2 separate regions of the Homo sapiens genome follow, and region 1 is linked to region 2. The links come from fine-mapping of genetic effects on gene expression. A gene starts in region 2. The other region holds a variant in brackets. All regions are shown on one strand. Distances are from middle to middle.

Region 1 (9,977 bases), 25 kb before region 2:
GCTTCCCCCAAACAGTGGCCCTCTGCCCTGCCCTGGGAGATCTGCAGACCACGTCATGTCCCCAACCGCCTGCAACGTGTCCCGGCCACACCCAGGGCCACATGTGTCCCTGTGACCACAGTGCTCTGGGCTCTGGATTTCCTGGTGCTGGGTTGTGTGGGTGGGTGTGGGGGAGAAGATAGGCTCTGGAAATGAGGGGTTAACCCTGTGGACTGGATTCAGGAAGGGGCCCCCTGGCCCTGACCTTCTCTCTCCCGTAACTTAGGCCCTCAAGCCTATACTCTGGGGAATCTCCCAGCTACTAGGACCTGTCAGGAGCACTCCTCCGCCCCCCGCCCCGACCGCACATTCTCCAATCAGCCTTAGGAAAGAGCTCCTTCCTAAGGAGCTGCCACACCTCCCCAGGACCCCAGTGGAGGGATGAGAGCGCAGCAAGCATCTGGCCACTGCCAGGGAACATTCACTCAACAGAGCAGGAACCCACACAGCCATCTGCATGGAAGGAAATGAAGTCTTGTCTAGGGCAGCAGAGTCCCCGGCCGCAGCACCTTCCTCCTAGAGCTTCTGGCTGATCTGCTGGCCAGGATACCTCCTACCTCCTTGAGGAAGCCCCGGCCTCGTCCAGGTCAGGAGTAAGGGGCCTGAGGAAAGCCCTGCCACCTGGGTTCTGCAGCCACACTCCTCTTATCTTGTGGCTCCTGTGGCTTGAGCTCTCACAGAAACCTCCAGGGCTGAGTCCCTTCCTTGACGACAGGCCCCACCCCATTCCCGGCCTGGGGCCCTCAACCTAGATGCCTCCTCCAGGAAGGACCCCCAACCACACAAGCACACAAGCTCACAATCACACAGGCACAGGGGATGTGCCCGCTCACAGAAGCCCCACGACCTGAGATCTTCCGGGACTGTGGCCAAACCCCTTCGTCCTCAGAGACCTTTGCCTCCTCCTGCCCCTCAGGCTCTCAAGACTCTGCTCTGAACCTTGGCACCCCTGGAACCGCTTCATTTTTTGGAGCCTCCCCCACGTGGCAGGGCTGATCAGTGCATGGGTAGTGTGACCTAAGCCTGACGACGACTAGAGATTCAAGAAGGCCTCCTAAAAAGAAAATGAACCAACTCTTCCAAAGGGACTGGAGGTCCCAAGCTACCCAGGAGGGGAAGTGATCCCAGCTTTGATGTATTTTAGGGACTGCACACTTGATGTTGCCCAGTGTCTGCTGTCCAGGAGGAAGGCAGATCGATGGCCGAGTGCTCGAGGTGGGTTAACTGTCACGTCTACTGCTGCCGAAGGGGGTCTTTTTTTGTTTGTTTTGAGACAGAGTCTCACTTTGTTGCCCAGGCTAGAGGGTAGTGGCACAATCTTGGCTCACTGCAATCTCCACCTCCTGGGTTCAAGCGATTCTTGTGCCTTAACTTCCCGAGTAGCTGGGACTACAGGCATGCGCCACCACGCCCGGCTAAATTTTGTTGTTTAGTAGAGATGGGGTTTTGCCATGTTGCCCAGGCTGGTCTCGAACTCCTGGTCTCAAGCAATCTGCCTGCCTCAGCCTCCCAAAATGCTGGGATTACTGGAGTGAGCTACCGCACCTGGGCTTTTTTTTTATTTTTTATTTATTTTTTTAATTAAAGACTGTCTTGCCTTCTTGCCCAGGCTGGTCTCAAACTTCTGGCTTCAAGTGATGATCTCACCTTGGCCTCCCAAAGTGCTGGGAGTATAGATGTGAGCCACTGTGCCCAGCCCTGCTGGAGGGTTCTATAGGGAGGCCCACTGCAGATGGTGAGTCCTCTTGGGCTCTGCTTCAGAGAACAGTAGGGCGTGTCCCAGATCTGGGTGGTTTGGGTACCCCAACACAGGCTTCCCTCCTTCTCTCCATCATCCACTGCTGGTCAGCAGCTCCCCACACCCACTGGAATAGTGAGAGGGAGGAGAAGCTCTTGGATTTGCTGGTCTCCAGGTCAAAGATGTGGTTTTGGGGATAAACAGTTTATTCTGAGAGCCCCAAGAGGTAAGGGGCATAAAGAATGAGGAACTGAACCTGATCATTATGTGTTATATGTATTGAAACATCACTATGGGTGGGGCGCAGTGACTCACACCCGTGATCCCAGCACTTTGGGAGGCCGAGGTGGGTGGATCATCTGAGGTCAGGAGTTCGAGACCAGCTTGGCCAACATGGGGAAACCCCATCTCTATTAAAAATACAAACATTAGCCGGGCTTGGTGGTGCGCGCCTGTAGTCCCAAATACCTGGGAGGCTGAGTTGGGAGAATCGTTTCAACCCAGGAGGCAGAGGTTGCAGTGAGCCGAGATTGGGCCACTGAACTTCAGCCTGGATGACAGAGCGAGACCCTGTCTCCCCCCGCCAAACAACAACAACAACAACAACAACAACAACAAAAATCACTATGTACCCCATGAATATGTGCAAATTATTATTATTATTGTTTTTGAGATAAGGTCTTGCTCTGTCACCCAGGCTGGACTGCAGTGGTGCAGTCTCAGCTCACTGCAGCCTTAACCTCTCAGGTTCAATCAATCCTCCCACTTCAGCCTCCCGAGTCTGGGACTACAGGTACTCGCCACCACACTCGGCTATTTTTTTTTTTTTTTTTAGAGACAGGGTCTCACTATATTGCCCAGGCTGGTCAATTATTATTTGTCAGTTTGAAAAATGTAAAAATAAGGAAGGGGTAGGTAGGAATAAATAAATAACAGCTGACAGAGTAGGTGAGGAGAATTCAACTTTTTGAATTTTTTTTCTTTTTTTTTTGAGACAAAGTTTTGCTCCTGTTGCCCAGGCTGGAGGGCAATGATGTGATCTTGGCGGGCAATGATGTGATCTTGGCTCACTGCAACCTCCACCTCCTGGGTTCAAGTGATTCTCCTGCCTCAGCCTCCCAAGTCACTGGAATTACAGGCATGTGCCACCACACCTGGCTAATTTTGTATTTTTTAGTAGAGATGGGGTTTCTCCATTTTGTTCAGGCTGGTCTTGAACTCCTGACCTCAGGTAATCCACCCACCACGGCCTCCCAAAGCGCTGGGATTATAGGTGTGAGCGACCGCACTCGGCCAACTTTTTGCATTTTTTTTTAAGCTTCTCTCCAGAGCCCGAATGTCTGACCTCCTGGGACTTGGGGTACCTGCTAGCTCAGCAGAGGCAGGCTGAGTTGAGCCAGTAAAAGTGAGCACTGTCTCTGTAGGAGATAAGCCAGACAACACAATTTTCCATGATATGCAACTTCAGTCCTCAAATGTGGCCTTGAGGGGACCATACAAAGCGAATCACAGACACACCCACACTTGTAGTTGCAGTGAGCATTATGATAACACCATAGCATTCCAGCCTGGGTGACAGGGCAAGACCCTGTCTGTAAAAAAATAGATAATGATATTATTATTATTATTATTATTATTATTATTATTATTATTATTATTTTCTGAGACAGAGTTTCATTCTTGTTGCCCAGGCTGGAGTGCAATGGTGCAATCTTGGCTCACTGCAATCTCTGCCTCCTGGGTTCAAGTGATTCTCCTGCCTCAGCCTCCCGAGTAGCTGAGATTACGGGCGCATGCCACCACTCCCGGCTAATTTTTGTATTTTTAGTAGAGATGGGGTTTTGCCATGTTGGCCAGGCTGGTCTCGAACTCCTGACCTCAGGTGATCCGCCTGCCTTGACCTCCCAAAGTGCTGGGATTACAGGCATGAGCCACCCCCGACCCTTGGCCAAATTTTTTATTTTTATATTTATTTGTTTATTTATTTTGAGATGGAATCTCGCTCTGTCGCCCAGGCTGGAGTGCAGTGGCACAATCTCGGCTCACTGCAAGCTCCGCCTCCCGGGTTCAGGCCATTCTCCTGCCGCAGCCTCCCGAGTAGCTGGGACTATAGGTGCCCGCCAACACGCCCGGCTAATTTTTTGTATTTTTAGTAGAGACGGGGTTTCACCGTGTTAGCCAGGATGGTCTTGATCTCCCGACCTCGTGATCCACTCACCTTGGCCTCCCAAAGTGCTAGGATTACAGGCATGAGCCACCGCGCCCAGCTCACATTTTTTAAAATGGAAGAAATAGGTATGGCTTTTCTGTAGGGAATGGGCTGGAGGCCAGGAGATCAGGAGGGGTAAGGAATGAAGGGGCCTGTAAGGGGGAGAAGCAGTGGGAACAGGAAGGAGACATTCCTGGGACATGTTTGGAAGTTGAACCCAGGATTTGGAGATGCTTTGAAGCAGGGTTGGTGGGAGACAGTAAGGAGGAATCAGCGGTGACACTTAAGGTCGGCTCTGGAGTCAGGCCCTGAGTTTCCCCGCCTCTGCCTTGTTTCCACTCTGCCCACTGCCAGCATCTAGCTAACTTAGACTGTAGCCTCTGACCCCAAATTATCCCTGTGCTCAGGTCTGTGCCACTGATATTGGCAGCTCCTAATGAGAGGTGACAGCGTGCTGCCAGTCCTCACAGCCCTCGCTCGCTCTCGGGGCCTCCTCTGCCTGGGCTCCCACTTTGGCGGCACTTGAAGAGCTCTTCAGCCCACCGCTGCACTGTAGGAGCCCCTTTCTGGGCTGGCCAAGGCCAGAGCCAGCTCCCTCAGCTTGCAGGGAGGTGTGGAGGGAGAGGCGCGAGTGGGAACCGGGGCTGCGAGCGGCGCTTGCGGGCCAGCTGGAGTTTCGGGTGGGCGTGGGCTTGGCGGGCCCGCACTCGGAGCGGCCCGCGGGCCCTGCTGGCCCCGGGCAATGAGGGGCTTGGCACCCGGGCCAGTGGCTGCGGAGGATGTACTGGGTCCCCCAGCAGTGCCAGCTCACAGGCGCTGCGCTCGACTTCTCACCGGGCCTTAGCTGCCTTCCCGGGGGGGCAGGGCTCGGGACCTGCAGCCCTCCATGCCTGAGCCTCCCACCCCCTCCATGGGCTCCTGTGCGGCCGGAGCCTCCCCGGTGAGCGCCGCCCCCTGCTCCACAGCGCCCAGTCCCATCGACCACCACAGGGCTGAGGAGTGCGGGCGCATGGCGCAGGACTGGCAGGCAGCTCCACCTGCATCCCTGGTGCGGGATCCACTGGGTGAAGCCAGTTGTGCTCCTGAGTCTGGTGGGGACGTGGACAATCTTTACGTCTAGCTCAGGATTGTAAATACACCAGTCGGCACTCAGTATCTAGCTCAAGGTTTGTAAACACACCAATCAGCACCCTGTGTCTAGCTCAGAGTTTGTGAATGCACCAACTGACACTCTGTATCTAGCTGCTCTGGTGGGGCCTTGGAGAACCTTTGTGTCGACACTCTGTATTTAGCTAATCTGGTGGCGACGTGGAGAACCTTTGTGTCTAGCTCAGGGATTGTAAACGCACCAATCAGCACCCTGTCAAAACAGACC[A/C]CTCGGCTCTACCAATCAGCAGGATGTGGGTGGGGCCAGATAAGAGAATAAAAGCAGGCTGCCTGAGCCCGCAGTGGCTACCTGTTCTGGTCCCCTTCCACACTGTGGAAGCTTTGTTCTTTTGCTCTTTGCAGTAAATCTTGCTACTGTTCACTCTTTGGGTCCATGCTGCTTTTATGAGCTTTAACACTCACCGCGAAGGTCTGCAGCTTCACTCCTGAAGCCAGCGAGACCACAAGCCCACTGGGAGGAACAAACGACTCCAGACGCACTGCCTTAAAAGCTGTAACACTCACCACGAAGGTCTGCAGCTTCACTCCTGAGCCAACAAGACCACAAACCCACCAGAAGGAAGAAACTCCAAACATCCAAACATCAAAAGAAACAAACTCCAGACGCGCTACCTTAAGAGCTGTAACACTCACTGCGAGGGTCTGCAGCTTCATTCTAGAACTCAGTGAGACCAAGAACCCACCAATTCCGGACACACTAAGACAAGATTTCACTAGTGTGTGCTGTTTCCCCTGCAAGGGGGAGGGCACAGAGATGGCTTTGGGTGAGGTTAGGGGGAGGATAGGCCTCCTGGTTGGCTAACACTTGTTTACTTCTGGGGCATGAGTGTTCATGTGAGCCCACGATGCCTGGCCTGTTCCTCTTTTAACAAAGTCTGGTAGGACATGGTGGCTCATGCCTGTAATCCCAGTAATTTGAAGGTCGAGGTGAGAGGATCTCTTGAAGCCGGAGGTTTGAGACCAGTCTAGGCAACATAATGAGAACTCTAAGAAAAAGGAAAAAAAAAAGTGGTGCATGCCTGTGGTTCCAGGTACTTACGAGGCTGAGGTGGGAGGTTCGCCTGAGCCCAGGAGTTTAAGGTTGCAGTGAGAGACGATGGCACCACTGCTCCCTAGCCTGGGCGACAGAGTGAGACCCCATCTCTAACAAAACGAAAACAAGATCCAATGCATCCTCCTGCCTGAAGTTCTTCCGTGGCTTCTCATTGCAGAAATCTACCGAATTTCTTTCTTTGGCTTTCAACTCATGGAGAGTCTGCTCTCACCAGCCTCTCCAGTCTCAGCAAATAGCACAAACTTTCCTGTCCTCCAAAATCTGGCCACCTCAGTGATGCTACGTCCCCCCATAGAGCCTTGGCACAACCTCAGCCTCCAATTGGTAGGGCTGTTGAGGCAAGGCCAGGATAGGAAATCTTGCTACCAGGAAGGAGTAGGTGGGTGAACAGCTTTTCCCTCTACTTCCTCTTCTATGCAGTGTTTGCATAAATCAAGACCTGCAGAGGAGGCAGCAGTAGAAACAGTTTGCTCCAAGGACCAAACTTATTCTGGTGTGCAGCTCACTCGCCCCTACTCATCTCCAGTGTATTTCAAGAGTATGCAGGGAAGGAAAAAGTCAGGCTGAGTTATAGCTGCACAGGCTGCCTCCCATGCTCAGAGCGCAGAGGTGGGGTGCAGCTGGGGCTTACTCAGTATCCAGCAGTGCCCAGATGATGATCATCTGCATCCAAGCCCCTCTGGTCCTGGAGACTCATGCTTCCCTTTGATGTCGCCCTGGATCTGCTCCCATGATGTCTGATACAGACAATTCCCAAGAAACAATAGTCTTCCAAGCCAGAAAGCAGCCTGGCCACTGTAGACAAACATCCTCCAATCACCAAGCTGAAGCCACCCTTCCTGAAACGTCAAATAGCTAACATAACATTTTTCTTCCACAAAAGGAAGTCAATGTTTATGTTTCTAGGAGAAGTGCAATAACCCCAAATGCATCTTTATCTCCTGAATGCATCTAGAACCTTCTGCTCAAGCCTTACCAACCAACCCCTACCCCGCCAGCCTCTCTGTCCAACATTCCTGGGGTGCTTTTTTTTTTTTTTTTTGGAGTGCGAGGGCACGATCTCGGCTCACTGCAACCTCCACCTTCCAGGTTCAAGCGATTCTCCTGCCTCAGCCTCCCAAGTACGTGGGATTACAGGCATGCACCACCAGGCTGGCTAATTTTTGTATTTTTTTTAGTAGAGATGGGGTTTCACCATGTTGATGAGGCTGGATTGTCTCGAACTCCTGACCTCGGGTGATCCACCAGCCTTGGCCTCTGAAAGTGCTGGGATTACAGGCATGAGCCACTGCGCCCGGCCTTTTTTCTTTTCTTTTTTTTTTTTTTTTTGAGACAGGATCTTGCTCTGTTGCCCAGGCTGGAGTGCAGTGGTGCCACTTTGGCTCACTGCAACCTCCGCCTCCCAGGTTCAAGCAATTCTCCAACCTCAGCCTCCCTAGTAGCTGGGGCTACAGGCATGCACCACCATGTCCAGCAAATTTTTGTATTTTTAGTAGAGACGGGATTTCACTACATTGGCCTTGAACTCCCGGCCTCAGGTGATCCACCCGCCTTGGACTCCCAAAGTGCTGGGATTACAGGCCTGAGCCACTGTGCCTGGCCCTGGGTTGCTTTCTGATGGAGACGATTGATGACTTGGGTCCCATGTGTACCATTGAGTTCCTCTTGCAGCTGGGTTCTGCCTGATTTCAGACAGTACAGAGGATCTGGGACAGAAGGCTGCATGCTATCCCATGTCCTTGAGGTAGTGCCATCAGCCGAGGGTGGGGAGGAGGCAGGAGGGCCCTGGGGTGCAGGAGCTGGATCCAGCAAGGCCATTAAAAGTATCTCAGGGGACAAGAGATGGTGGCTCATGCCTGTAATCCTAGCACTTTGGGAGGCCAAGGCATGAGGATTGCTTGAGGCCAGGAGTTCAAGACCAGCCTGGGAAACATGGTGAGACCCCTTCTCTACAAAAAAATTTTTTAAAAAGTAGCTGGTCATGGTGGCACATGTCTGTAGTCTCAGCTACTCAGGAGGCTGAGGTGGGAGAATTGCTTGAGCCCAGAAGTTAGAGGCCACAGTGAGCTATGGTCGCTCCACTGCATTCCAGCCTCTGGGAAAGAGCAAGACCCTGTCTTAAAAATAAAATACCTTTTCCGAAACATTTTTTGTAAGATTAAAAAAAGAGAAAAGAAGGAAGGAAGGAAGGAATAAAGAAAAGAAAAGAAAAAAATTTTAAAAGGTTGGGTATGGTGGCTCACGCCTGTAATCCTAGCACTTTGGGAGACCAAGGCAGGTGAATTGCTTGAGCTCAGGAGTTCGAGAGCAGCCTGGGCAACATGATGAAGCCCCGTCTTTATAAAAAATACAAAAATTAGCCAGGTGTGGCAGTGCACACCTGTAATCCCAGCTGCTTGGGAGGCTGAAGCAGGAGAATCGCTTGAACCCGGGAGGCGGAGGTTGCAGTGAGCTGAGATCGTGCCACTGCACTCCAGCCTGGGCAACAAGAGCGAAACTCTGTCTCAAAAAAAAAAAATTTCCTTTTAGAGACAGGGTCTCACTGTGTTGTTCACTGAAACTTCAAACTCCTGGGCTCAGGCAATCCTCCTGCCTCAGCCTTCCGAGTTGCTGGTGGAATCTGTGAGAAACATGGTGACTCGGTCAATAACCATGCCCCAGGCAGTTGTGGGGGACAGCCTGTATTCCATGGCGGCAACAAAGTTTTCATCTACGGACAGGGCCTCATCATCACCTGCGGCCTTAGCCTGTTCTTCAAAAAGCTGCCACTGCTGCATAGGATCATTTAGATCAGTGTAGGCATTGCTTATCGCTTTCTTTATGACAAATAGCTTAAAGCGCTGGGTCAGACCTTTTGAGTAGTGCCATTTAGCCAAAGGGCTCATTATCTGGGGGTGATCACAGATGAATGTAGAATTGTTGCAAATCACTTCCAGGAACTCCCCCAACAAGCTTGTCAAGGAGCCTGGCTGTGGTCCTAGGTGGAGGGCACGCAATAGCATTTGCACGCAGATATTATCAAGAATTTTGCCAATTGCTTCAGTTTCAAATAGGTTATTTTCTGGCAGCTTCACCCCCAGGGCTTTCTCAAGCTCTTCTATCATGCTGATTCTCCGGAAGGGTAGGGTGAAGTCAATATTGCAGGCTTATCCCTCTGGGACATCTGGGTAGTAGGTGACCTTGTAACTACCTGTATTATGCTTCACCATCCCTGGAACCATCTTCCCCGTGATTTCCGTGAGATTGTGATAGTCTAGGCCATGTAGAACTCAGGGGTGCTGAACTCAGGATTTTACGTCAAATCAATTCCTTCATTCCAGAACTGGAATGCAATTTCATAAACCTGGTCAATGCCACCAACCACTAGCATCTTATGGTAGAGTTCTAGAGTAGTTCATGTGCAGCTTGTTGTGATAAGTGATGAAAGGCTTGGTCATAGCTCCCCTGGGATGACGTTCATTCATGGGAGTTTCAAGCTCTAGGAATCCCAGCTCATCCAAGAAACTTTTTTTTTTTTTTTGAGATGGAGTTTTCTTGTTGCTCAGGCTGGAGTATAGTGGTGCAATCTTGGCTTACTGCAACCTCCACCTCCTGGGTTCAAGTAATTCTGCTTCAGCCTCCTGAGTAGCTAGGATTATAGGCACCTGCCACCACGCCCATCTAATTTTTGTATTTTTAGTAGAGGTGGGGTTTTACCATGTCGTCCAGACTGGTCTCGAACTCCTGACCTCAGGCAATCTGCCTGCCTTGGCCTCCCAAAGTGCTGGGAT
Region 2 (9,977 bases):
GTAACCTGGAACTCCTGGCCTCAAGTGATCCTCTTGCCTTGGCCTCCCAAAGTGCTGAGATTATAGGAGTGAGATGTCACGTCTACAGATGAACCTATTTTAACATGAAATTCAAACAAATTCATGACAAGATAAGAATCCCAAATGACTGGCCAGGTGCCTTGGCTCATGTCTGTAATCCCAGCACTTTGGGAGGCTGAGGCAGGCGGGTCACTTGAGGCCAGGAGTTCACAACCAGCCTGGCCAACATGGCAAAACTCTGTCTCTACTAAAAATATAAAAACTAGCCGGGCATGGTGGTGTGCACCTCTAATCCCAGCTACTCAGGAGGCTGAGGCCCGAGAATTGCTTGAACTTGGGAGGCAGAGGTTGCAGTGAGCCGAGATTGTGCCACTGCACTCCAGCCTGGGTGACAGAGTTAAGACTCTGTTTCAAAAAAAAAAAAAAAGATAACAATACAAAATCATAACCTTATCATTACACTGCCCTCTCTTTAAATAGGCAAACAATGACAATCTTATCACTATGAAAGGATGAGGTTTAGCTCCCAGCAGCAGCCCAGGTCAGCACTGTGGAGAGGTACCAAAAGGTCATTAGGGCCAGGCGTGGCGGCTCACACCTGTAATCCTAGCACTTTGCGAGGTGGAGGCAGGAGTATCTCTTGAGCCCAGGAATTTGAGACCAGCGTGGGTAACATAGCTAGACCTTGTGTCTATTTTTTTTATATTTAAAAAAAGGCGATTTGGTCCTACTCAAAGGAAACAGGCAACTCTGCCCTTAGCCTGATCAGGACCACACTAGGAGCAGCCTTTGGTTCAGTGTGGCCAAGAACTTCCTACCAAAGAGAGATGACCTTAAGGAGAGGTCTCCCTATTACTGGCCTTGAAAAAGCAAACATGGGACATTTATTTAGTGGGGTTATTGCAGAGGGGATATGCCCAGGAGGTAGAGACGGCCCGATCTTTGGAGACTGGGTCACCCCGGTTGAGAATCATAGCACCTTCTCTCATAAGTTGCTTTAGTGTGGTGCTAATTGATGGCCTGCAGGGAGTGGTAGGAGGTAAAATATCAAGGGGATGGTTCCTGGGAAGTCTGTTCTGGCAGGAGGGCTAGCATGAGATCACTCAGATTCTCCAAGGCTCTGGAGAGAGTACTTGTCCGGAAGCATCCCTCTTGTCTTGTGGGGGTACAAAGCCTTACAGGAATTTGCTGGGACTCTGGGAAAGGCAGTACAGCATAGACAAATGGTTTATCAATTTGGGAGGGCCCAAGTATCACCTGGGGGAGTTTACAAAGAGTATTCTCAGGTCAAACTTTAGAGAGCTTAATCCCATCTGGAGTGGGGCTCAGGATTCTGTTATTTTTTTTGAGACAGAATATCAGCTCTGTCACCCAGGCTGGAGTGCAGAAGTGCAATTTTGGCTCACTGAAACCTTCGCCTCCAGAATTCAAGCCATTCTTGTGCCTCAGCCTCCCAAGTATTTGGGATTACAGGCGTGCACCACCACATTCAGCTAATTTTTTTGTATTTTTAATAGAGATGGGGTTTCGCATGTTTACCAGGCTGGTCTTAAACTCCTGACCTCAGGTGATCCTCCTGCCTCAGCCTCCCAAAGTGCTGGCATTACAGGCGTGAGCCACCACACCCGGCTTTTTTTTTTTTTTTTTTTTGAGATGGAGTCTTGCTCTGTCCCCTAGGCTGGAGTGTAGTGGTATGATCTTGGCTCACTGCAACCTCCGCCTCCCAGGTTCAAGTGATTCTCCTGCCTCAGCCTCCCGAGTAGCTGGGACTACAGGCGCGTGCCACCACGCCGGGTTGATTTTTGTAATTTTTTTTTGTGTATATATATATATACACATATATATATACACGTATATATATATACACGTATATATATATATACATATATATATATACGTATATATATGTATGTGTATATATATATATACGTATGTATATATATATATATATATATATATATACGTATATATATATATAAAGAAAATGCTATATGGTTATTTTTCCAGTTTTGTAAAACCGTTTAATCATCTCTCCTCTTTCTCGGCTACCGAGTTGGGATAGAAGGCAGAACCTGAAAATGTACAAGCAAAACTTCTGTGTTCGTCTACCCTTTACTTTTCTGCCAGTACCTTCCAGAGATTTCGCCAAGACGCCCGTTTGTCTTGGGCATTGTTAGAGAGTAACTCTGTCTACTGCTAGTCACATTTCCTTTCCTTTCCTTTCCCTGGGGGCTTAATGGATACCTTTTTGGGGGCAGGAAATACAAACTAAATGTTTATAAATGAAAACATCAACTGAAAGAGCCTTTGTCCTAGATGTGGAGGTTTGGTGTATGAATCCTCAGAAACTACTGAATTCCGCCCCGGTGCTAATTATTCTTAGGGGAGGCACATAAAAACATCATTTATTGTTAGAAATCATGACATGATACAAAGTCAAAATCCACTTGTGTCTTGCTAAAGACTACAGAAAGCCATGCTCAGCAGCTTCTTCTCCAATGCTGGCCAGCAGCGTACCTTTCCAAGTCACAAAGCAGTTCATCCCGCCCTCAAGGAGCCGACAGGGCAGCCCAGAGCCTCCCACTGACAAGTGTGGTCACCCACTCAAGATACTGGGAAAGATCCCTGTTCTAGCATCACATTTTAATCAGATTTGTCAAAATCAGGTTGCTTGGGGCAAAGGCTCTTTCACCGAGGATGCTAGTCCTGGAAGACTTCTCCTTCGGCGAGCCGCCAGCTCAATCTTCTGAACCAGGCTCACATCCCAGGGATGGGTCACAAAACTGATGACGGTGCCTGGCACCTCGCTCCCCACACGGCCCACTCTCCCTGCTCTGTGGATGTAATCTTGCAGCGTTGGGGGGAAATCATAATTGACAACCAGCTCCACACCAGTGCTGTCCAGGCCCCGAGAGGCTATGTCTGTGCAGAGAAGTATGTCTCGGGAGCTCTTCTGGAAGGACTGGAAGATTCCTACCCTCATCAAGGCTGGCATTTGCCCCTGCAACCTTAGGTGTTGGATTTTGTGGTCATCCAGAATATATCCCAGCCAGTTCACAGTGCTGGAGCTATTACAGAACACCAGAACAGTTCCTGAGGGACCAGTCCTTTCTGCTCTGTCACGATGCTTGAGGATGTGCACCAGCTCGGCCACCTTATCTGCTCCCTTCAGTCTCAGAAATGTCTGTTTCACATGAGGCATGATACAGTGGAGCTTGGAGCTGGTGATGGTGGTGACAGCATCTGGGCTGGCGACTTTATTCAGCAACTGGCCTACACCTTCGGGAAATGTGGCTCCTACCAGCACTAACTGAGCTTTGGGATTGAAGGGGTCTTCCAAGTCAGCTGGGCCTTCTGCTATGTGGCTCTTCTCTAAGATGTAGTCCACCAGTTCCAGGAAGCTTTCATCCAGCAGTGTGTCTGCCTCATCCAACACCAAGAAGGAGAGTTGCTCCAGACTGATCAGTCGACTTTTCAGGGCCTTCCACAGAGCCCCTGGAGTGGCCACAAGCACATCTGCTGAAGGCTGTCTGGACAGCTGCAGCCTGATCCTACGCATGCCGTGGCCTCCCTCCAGGTCCCGCACCAGCAGGCCCAAGGAGCGGCCCAAGGGTTGGGCCACAGCCCGCACCTGTTGGGCCAATTCTCGGGAAGGAACAAGGACCAGGCCTCGGGGCGCGGGGATAGGAAGGGAGTCCAGGCTTGGCTGGCCCAAGAGCCGTTGAAGCAGCGGCAGGAGGTAGCTGAGAGTCTTGCCACTGCCGGTTTCTGCGGCGCAAACGACATGGCGGCCGCGAAGTAGTGAGGGGATGGTGCTAGACTGCACGGTTGTGGGCTGAACGACTTCAGGCGCAGCCTCCTGTAGTGCGTGCAGCACACGGGGCTCCAGGCCCAGGTCAGCAAAGCTGCCCTTAGACGAGAGCTTTCGCACCGCTGGCGCCTCCTGTTGCGCGCGCTCGATGGAGAAGTGGTCCCGACGCGCGCGTCGACTCTTCCAGCCTTGAGAGGCTAGCGGCGCGCGCTCCCAACGGCCCAGTGTGAGGCGCGCCGGCTGGTTCAACTCCGGCCGCCGCGCCGAAACCAGCAGCGGTCCGGGTCGAACCAGCACCGGCCTCGGGAGGTTCCGCCGCCTGCTCTGCCGCTGTTCCAACTGCCGCTGTAGAGCCACTGGGATGCGCACCACCGGCAGGGGTTCGTCGGGACTGCGGACCGTGAGGCCCCGTCGCGGCGCCAGGAGCAACCGAGTCACGAGGGAAAAGAGCCGCACCGGCCGCGTTAGAGCCATGTTTCCCTTAGTGCGGGAGAAGCGCACATCAGTGACGTCACGGACGCGCCGCGACCTCGCGTACGGTGGCTGGCGAGGCTCAGTACGGTGTGTGGAGCTGGAGCACCGTGAGGAAGAAGCGAGGTTCTTTTTAAGAGTTCAGCTGCGAGGTCTGTAGCTCCGAATAGGGGATGGCGACATCCAGACCCGGCCAGCCTTGGGGAAGGGCGCGTCGTGGAGGCAGGACTGGAGGCTGGCGATACGAGGCGGCAGTGGGGCCTTGACCCAATGGACCATGAGGGCGGAGGGCTTCTGGCGATTGGTTACCTGGTTCCTGGGATTCTCTTTAGTTGTTCCTCATTGCCCTGAGATAGCTTGTCCCGTGCTGGTATCCGAGGTTGCAGCTGTTTTCCCAGATGTGTTCCCTGCGCAGGGTCTGGTAATCCGTGTTTATTGAGAGTTTGAATGAATGATCAGGCCTAGGGGCCGAGACAGGGGTCTGAAGTCATAGATCTGGGCTCAACCCCTCACCCTCTCTGTCTGTGAGCCCAGAGTGCAAGCTGATGGCTTTCAGCTTCTTCTCTCTCTCAAGTGGGAGATAAGGTCTTCAGGTTTTATTTCAAGTTGGGTCATCTTTTCTTCACAGTTATTTTCCTTCCTTTTAAGCCAAGGTTCACTCTCTACTCCCTCGTCACGCGTCCCAACTTCTCATCCAGAACCCACCCCTCTTGCAGCCCGCTCAGCTCCACTGGCTTCCCCGTCAGAAACCTGAATTACCTAAAATAGTAGTAAGAAGGGTGCTGCGACCCTACAAAGTGATCAAGTACGTGGCTTATCATGTAGCCCTGGTCAGGCAGAATATTTTACCTGAATTCAGATATTCGGGTTGTAAAAACAAGAACTATACGAGTCACTTTTTTTTTTTTTTTTTCTGAGACACAGTCTCGTTCTGTCACCCAGGCTGGAGTGCAGTGGCGCAATCTCGGCTCACTGCAACCTCCACCTCCTGGGTTCAGGTGATTCTCCTGCCTCTGCCTCCCAAGTAGCTGAGACTACAGCCGTACACCACCCACGCCCGGCTAATTTTTTCTGTTTTTAGTAGAGACAGGGTTTCACTATGTAGGCCTGGCTGGTCTCGAACTCCTGGCCTCAAGCGATCTTCCCACCTCGGCCTCCCAAAGTGATGGGATTATAAGCGTGAGCCACCATGCCCAACAGATACTTCTTGAACAGATCTGGAAAATGGGTGTCAGATCTTTTCTGTAATTTGCAGTGCCTGGGGTGGGAGATAAGGTAAATATTTATGGATTAACTCTCTGGGAGGTTCGTAACATCTGGAGAAAACGTTTTAGTTTCATCAAATACCAATGAAAAGATAAAAACTTTGCTTTTTTTGGAATAGTATGAGGAAAAACTTTCACAATTTTAAGTACACTCTACCCTTGTGCTACACAATTAGACTTTCTGGAGAGTTACCAGATAAATCAGAGGAAGAGAGGCTTTTTTTCTCCACAAGAAAATATCTGGAAGTAGGAAGAGAAAGTTTTGAGTAGTGATGGGTGAATGAACAGTCATTGGATAGGGTAGTGGTTCTAAAACAAGGGTGATTTTGCCCTTTCCCTCCCACCATATTTGACAATGGCTGGATACTTTTTTTTTTTTTTTTTTTATAGACAGTCTCACTGTGTTGCCCAGGCTGGAGTACAGTGGTGCGATGTCAGCTCACTGCAGTCTCTGCCTTCTGGGTTCAAGGGATTCTCCTGCATCAGCCATCTGAGTAGCTGGGATTAGAGGTGTGCGCTACCACTCCCAGCTAATTTTTGTATTTTTAATAGAGACAGGGTTTCACTACGTTGGGCAGGCTGGTCTCAAACTCCTGACCTCATGATTTGCCCACCTTGGTCTCCCAAAGTGCTGAGATTACAGGTGTGAGCCGCTGTGCCCGGCCCAATTCTATGCTACTTTTATGATTCTTTCCAAACTCAGGGCTTCTCCTTATCCAAATAGTTCCTTGGGGCCAGGCTCATGCCTGTAATCCCAGCTACTCGGGAGGCTGAGGCAGGATAATCGTTTGAACCCGGGAGGCGGAGGTTGTTGCAGTGAGCCGAGATCGCACCATTGCACTCCAGCCTGGGCGACAGGGCGAGACTCTGTCTCAAAAAAAAAAAAAAAAGGTCCCTTGGATGTTTGTCCCAACAGGTTTCATCCATTTCCATGTGCCACTGTTTTTCAGATATCAAACAAAGAATTACTCTGTACAAAGCCAGAACACATATATCAAAGTAATCCTGAAGTATCAGAACAAAATAATAGGTATGTATATGCATTTGGGTTTTTGGGTTTTGTTCAAATATCCAGGGTAGGGTAGCTGGTTAATATATAGTTGTTTTCTCATTATGCTTGAGTCCTTACAATATGATTACCTCAAAATTTCACAGGAGTTAGAGCTTGCCTAAGCCTGTCTGTGTCCGTGGCCACTAATTTCTTCTTGTCACATCACTAGACACTGCCTACCTTTTTTCCCCCTCACTCACAGAGGACATTGATTAACTTCTAAATGTTTTCTGAGATATTTTTATAAGTAGTGCTTTAGAAATAGGAAAGGTATCCTTATTGTGAAAAAAAATCTAAGCTCCTGAGATCAGGAGCTTGGTGTGTTCCTTGGATCTCAGTTAATAATGGTATATTCATTCATTCATTCAATCATTCATTCAACAAATACTTCCTGAGCACCACGCATGTGCCAGGCATTGGTAGTGAGGAAAACAGCCAAAATCCCTGCCCTTGTGGAGTTTACATTCTGATTTAATTGATTTGGGTTAAGGCCTAGACAAGGTCTTGCTCTGTCACCCAGGCTAGACTTCAGTGGTGCCATCTCGACTCACTGTAACCTCTGCCTCCCAGGTTCAAGTGATTCTTCTGCCTCAGCCACCCCAGTAGGTGGGATTACAGGCACGTGCTACCAAACCCGGCTAATTTCTGTATTTTTAGTAGAGATGAGGTTTTGCCATTTTGACCAGGCTGATCTCGAACTCCTGACCTCAGTTGATCTGCCTGCCTTGGCCTCCCGAAGTGCTGGGATTACAGATGTGAGCCATTGTGCCCAGCCGAGAAATTGGTATTTTTAGAAACCTCTCCAGATGTAACTAGGCTTGAGAATCACAGTTATAAATGAAGCACTTTGGGAATTGCAAAGCATTACAGCAATAAAAAGTGCTATTGGTATTACTTTATTGTTCCTCCATTTTCCCACCTGTAGCAGGGCTGTGCGCAGGTAATCATATTTTCAGTCATTATCACTATAGTATTCCTGGACCCTTTGACCTTCCTTCTCATCCAGCTCCCTACCTGCTCTTTGTTTTTTACCCTCTGGTCTACCTTCTGTTTCCCGAGTGATGTTATTAAAGCACAGCTAGGCCTGGTGTGGTGGCTCACGCCTGTAATCCCAGCACTTTGAGAGGCCAAGGCGGGCAGATCACGAGGTCAGGAGTTCAAGACCAGTCTGGCAAACGTGGTGAAACCCTTTCTTTACAAAAATACAAAAATTAGCTGAGCATGGTGGCAGGCACCTGTAATCCCAGCTACTCGGGAGGCTGAAGTGGAAGAATTGCTTGAACCCGGGAGGCGGAGGTTGCAGTGACCTGAGATTGTGCCATTGCATTCCAGACTGGGTGATAGAGCAAGAGTCTATCTGAAAAAAAAAAAAAAAAAAAAAGCACAGCTATGGCCATGTTACCCTTTGACTCAAAAGCCATTCATGAATCCTTGTTGCCTGCAGATTATTTCCTAATCAGTATCCAGAATTGGGCTCAACCTCTTCTGTTGCTTTCTTATGTGAATCTTGTTCACTCAAGTGATGGCTCCATGCAAGTTGGCCAAAGGGCTTGTAGTCCTTTACTGGGTAAGCCAGAGATTGGAGTAGTCATTCGTCTCCTCTAAAACCAAACTTGAGTGATAACAAAGCACTTTAAATGCACTTTGGCTGGGATAGAGTTCTTCTGTGACTGAAGCATGGAGTGGATCATAGCTCTTGTTGCACTTGGTCCATTAACTTCTTGTTTTTTTTTTTTTTTGGAGATGGAGTTTTGCTCTTGTTGCCCAGGCTAGAGTGCAGTGGCATGATCTCAGCTTACTGTGACCTCCGCCTCCCGGGTTCAAGTGATTCTCTTGCCTCAGCCTCCCAAGTAGCTGGGATTACAGGCATGCGCCACCACACCCGGCTAATTTTGTATTTTTAGTAGAGACGTGGTTTCTCCATGTTGGTCAGGCTGGTCTGGTCTCAAACTCCCGACTTTAGGTAATCCGCCTGCCTTGGCCTCCCAAAGTGCTGGGATTACAGGCGTGAGCCACCTCACCCGGCTGCCATTAACTTCTTTTTACAGCAAACACTAAGCATCTACCATATGCCAGATTGTATGCTCTCTGATGAGGATCTGGTGATGAACAAGCCACAGTGCCTATTTTCACCTTACAGTGAAGAAGGCATATTGACAGATAGTTGCTCTTCTATTAATAGTTGCCAGGATAGCTCCATGCCAGGACAGGAATGAGCTCAGAGATGCCTTTACCCTGTTTTGGGAGATGTTGGTCAGAGAAGGCTTCCAGGAGGAGGTGATGAGGTTCTAAAAGTCTACAGGGAGTCAGCCAGGTGGAAGAATAGGGACGTGGCCCCTGGGCAGGGACAGCTTGTTCAGAGATCCCATACTGAGAGAGAGCAGGCCAGGCTGGGGAACTAGAAATATTTAAGAATAGCTGAAGCTTAGCATGGGGGAGTTCTGAGGGCAGGAGGCAGGTGATGAAAGAGGCTTCTATGGAAGGTGGAGACCAGACCTTATATTTACTGTGTTAAAGAGTGTAGACTTAATTTTACAGGCAGTAGGGAAGGCGTCCAGAAATGGAACTATCATGTTTTGCGTATCATATCTTTGCGTTTGGAAAGAGCCCTTTGGCTGGAAGGAGCATGGATTGGAAGTGATAAGCCTGGAGGCAGAGAGACTGGTTTGGAGACTGTTGTCATGGTTCAGTTGATAGATGATGGCAGTTGTAGAGCTGAGAAGCTCTTTGAGGTTAAGAGCTTAGTGCTTTCCGTGTCTTTATACCTCACACGCTGCCTTGATCTTAAAAGAGCTAGCAGATGTTTGTCGATATAACAACATAATAATAGACGTTAGAGGCCAGGCGCGGTGGCTCACACCTGTAATCCCAGCACTTTGGGAGGCCAAGGCGGGTGAATCACGAAGTCAGGAGTTTGAGACCAGTCTGGCCAACATGGTGAAACCCCATCCCTACTAAAAAAAAATACAAAAAATTAGCTGGGCGTGGTGGTGGGCACCTGTAATCCCAGCTACTCGAGAGGCTGAGGCAAGAGAATTGCTTGAACCCGGGAGGCGGAGGTTGCAGTGAGCTGAGATCACGCCACTGCACTCCATCCTGGGAGACAGTAGGAGACTCCGTCTCAAAACAAACAAACAAACAAAAAATAGAGTGTTGAAACCGTGAAAGCATGATGAGAGTGGCTAACATTTATTAAGCCTTTACTATGTGCTGAGAACTGTGGTACACCATGGAATTCACTCTTCACAGCATTTCCTTTGACTCCCATAGTGGAGCCTCATATTCCACAAGGAGAAGCTGAGGCTCAGCTGGGTTAATTAATGTGCCCGAGGCACAGCTGGGATTCAAGTGAAGGTCT

What was found.
Region 1: its variant is fine-mapped to the expression of DUS2 in whole blood (TOPMed, PIP 0.92).

The regions. Positions count from the first base shown.
Region 1 is chr16:67,993,610-68,003,586 of GRCh38, forward strand. DPEP2 (dipeptidase 2) reads right to left here and starts at 5,875. Exons shown (of 11, transcript NM_022355.4): 1 at 5,766-5,875. It also overlaps the pseudogene KARS1P3. RefSeq lists an enhancer at 4,298-4,814. The variant A/C (reference allele first, on the strand shown) is at 5,362.
Region 2 is chr16:68,018,897-68,028,873 of GRCh38, forward strand. DUS2 (dihydrouridine synthase 2) reads left to right here and starts at 4,388. Exons shown (of 17, transcript NM_017803.5): 1 at 4,388-4,455; 2 at 6,519-6,598. DDX28 (DEAD-box helicase 28) reads right to left here and starts at 4,336. Exons shown (of 1, transcript NM_018380.4): 1 at 2,020-4,336. The coding sequence starts at 4,306. The coding sequence ends at 2,684. RefSeq lists enhancers at 3,037-3,787, 3,788-4,538, 4,249-4,488.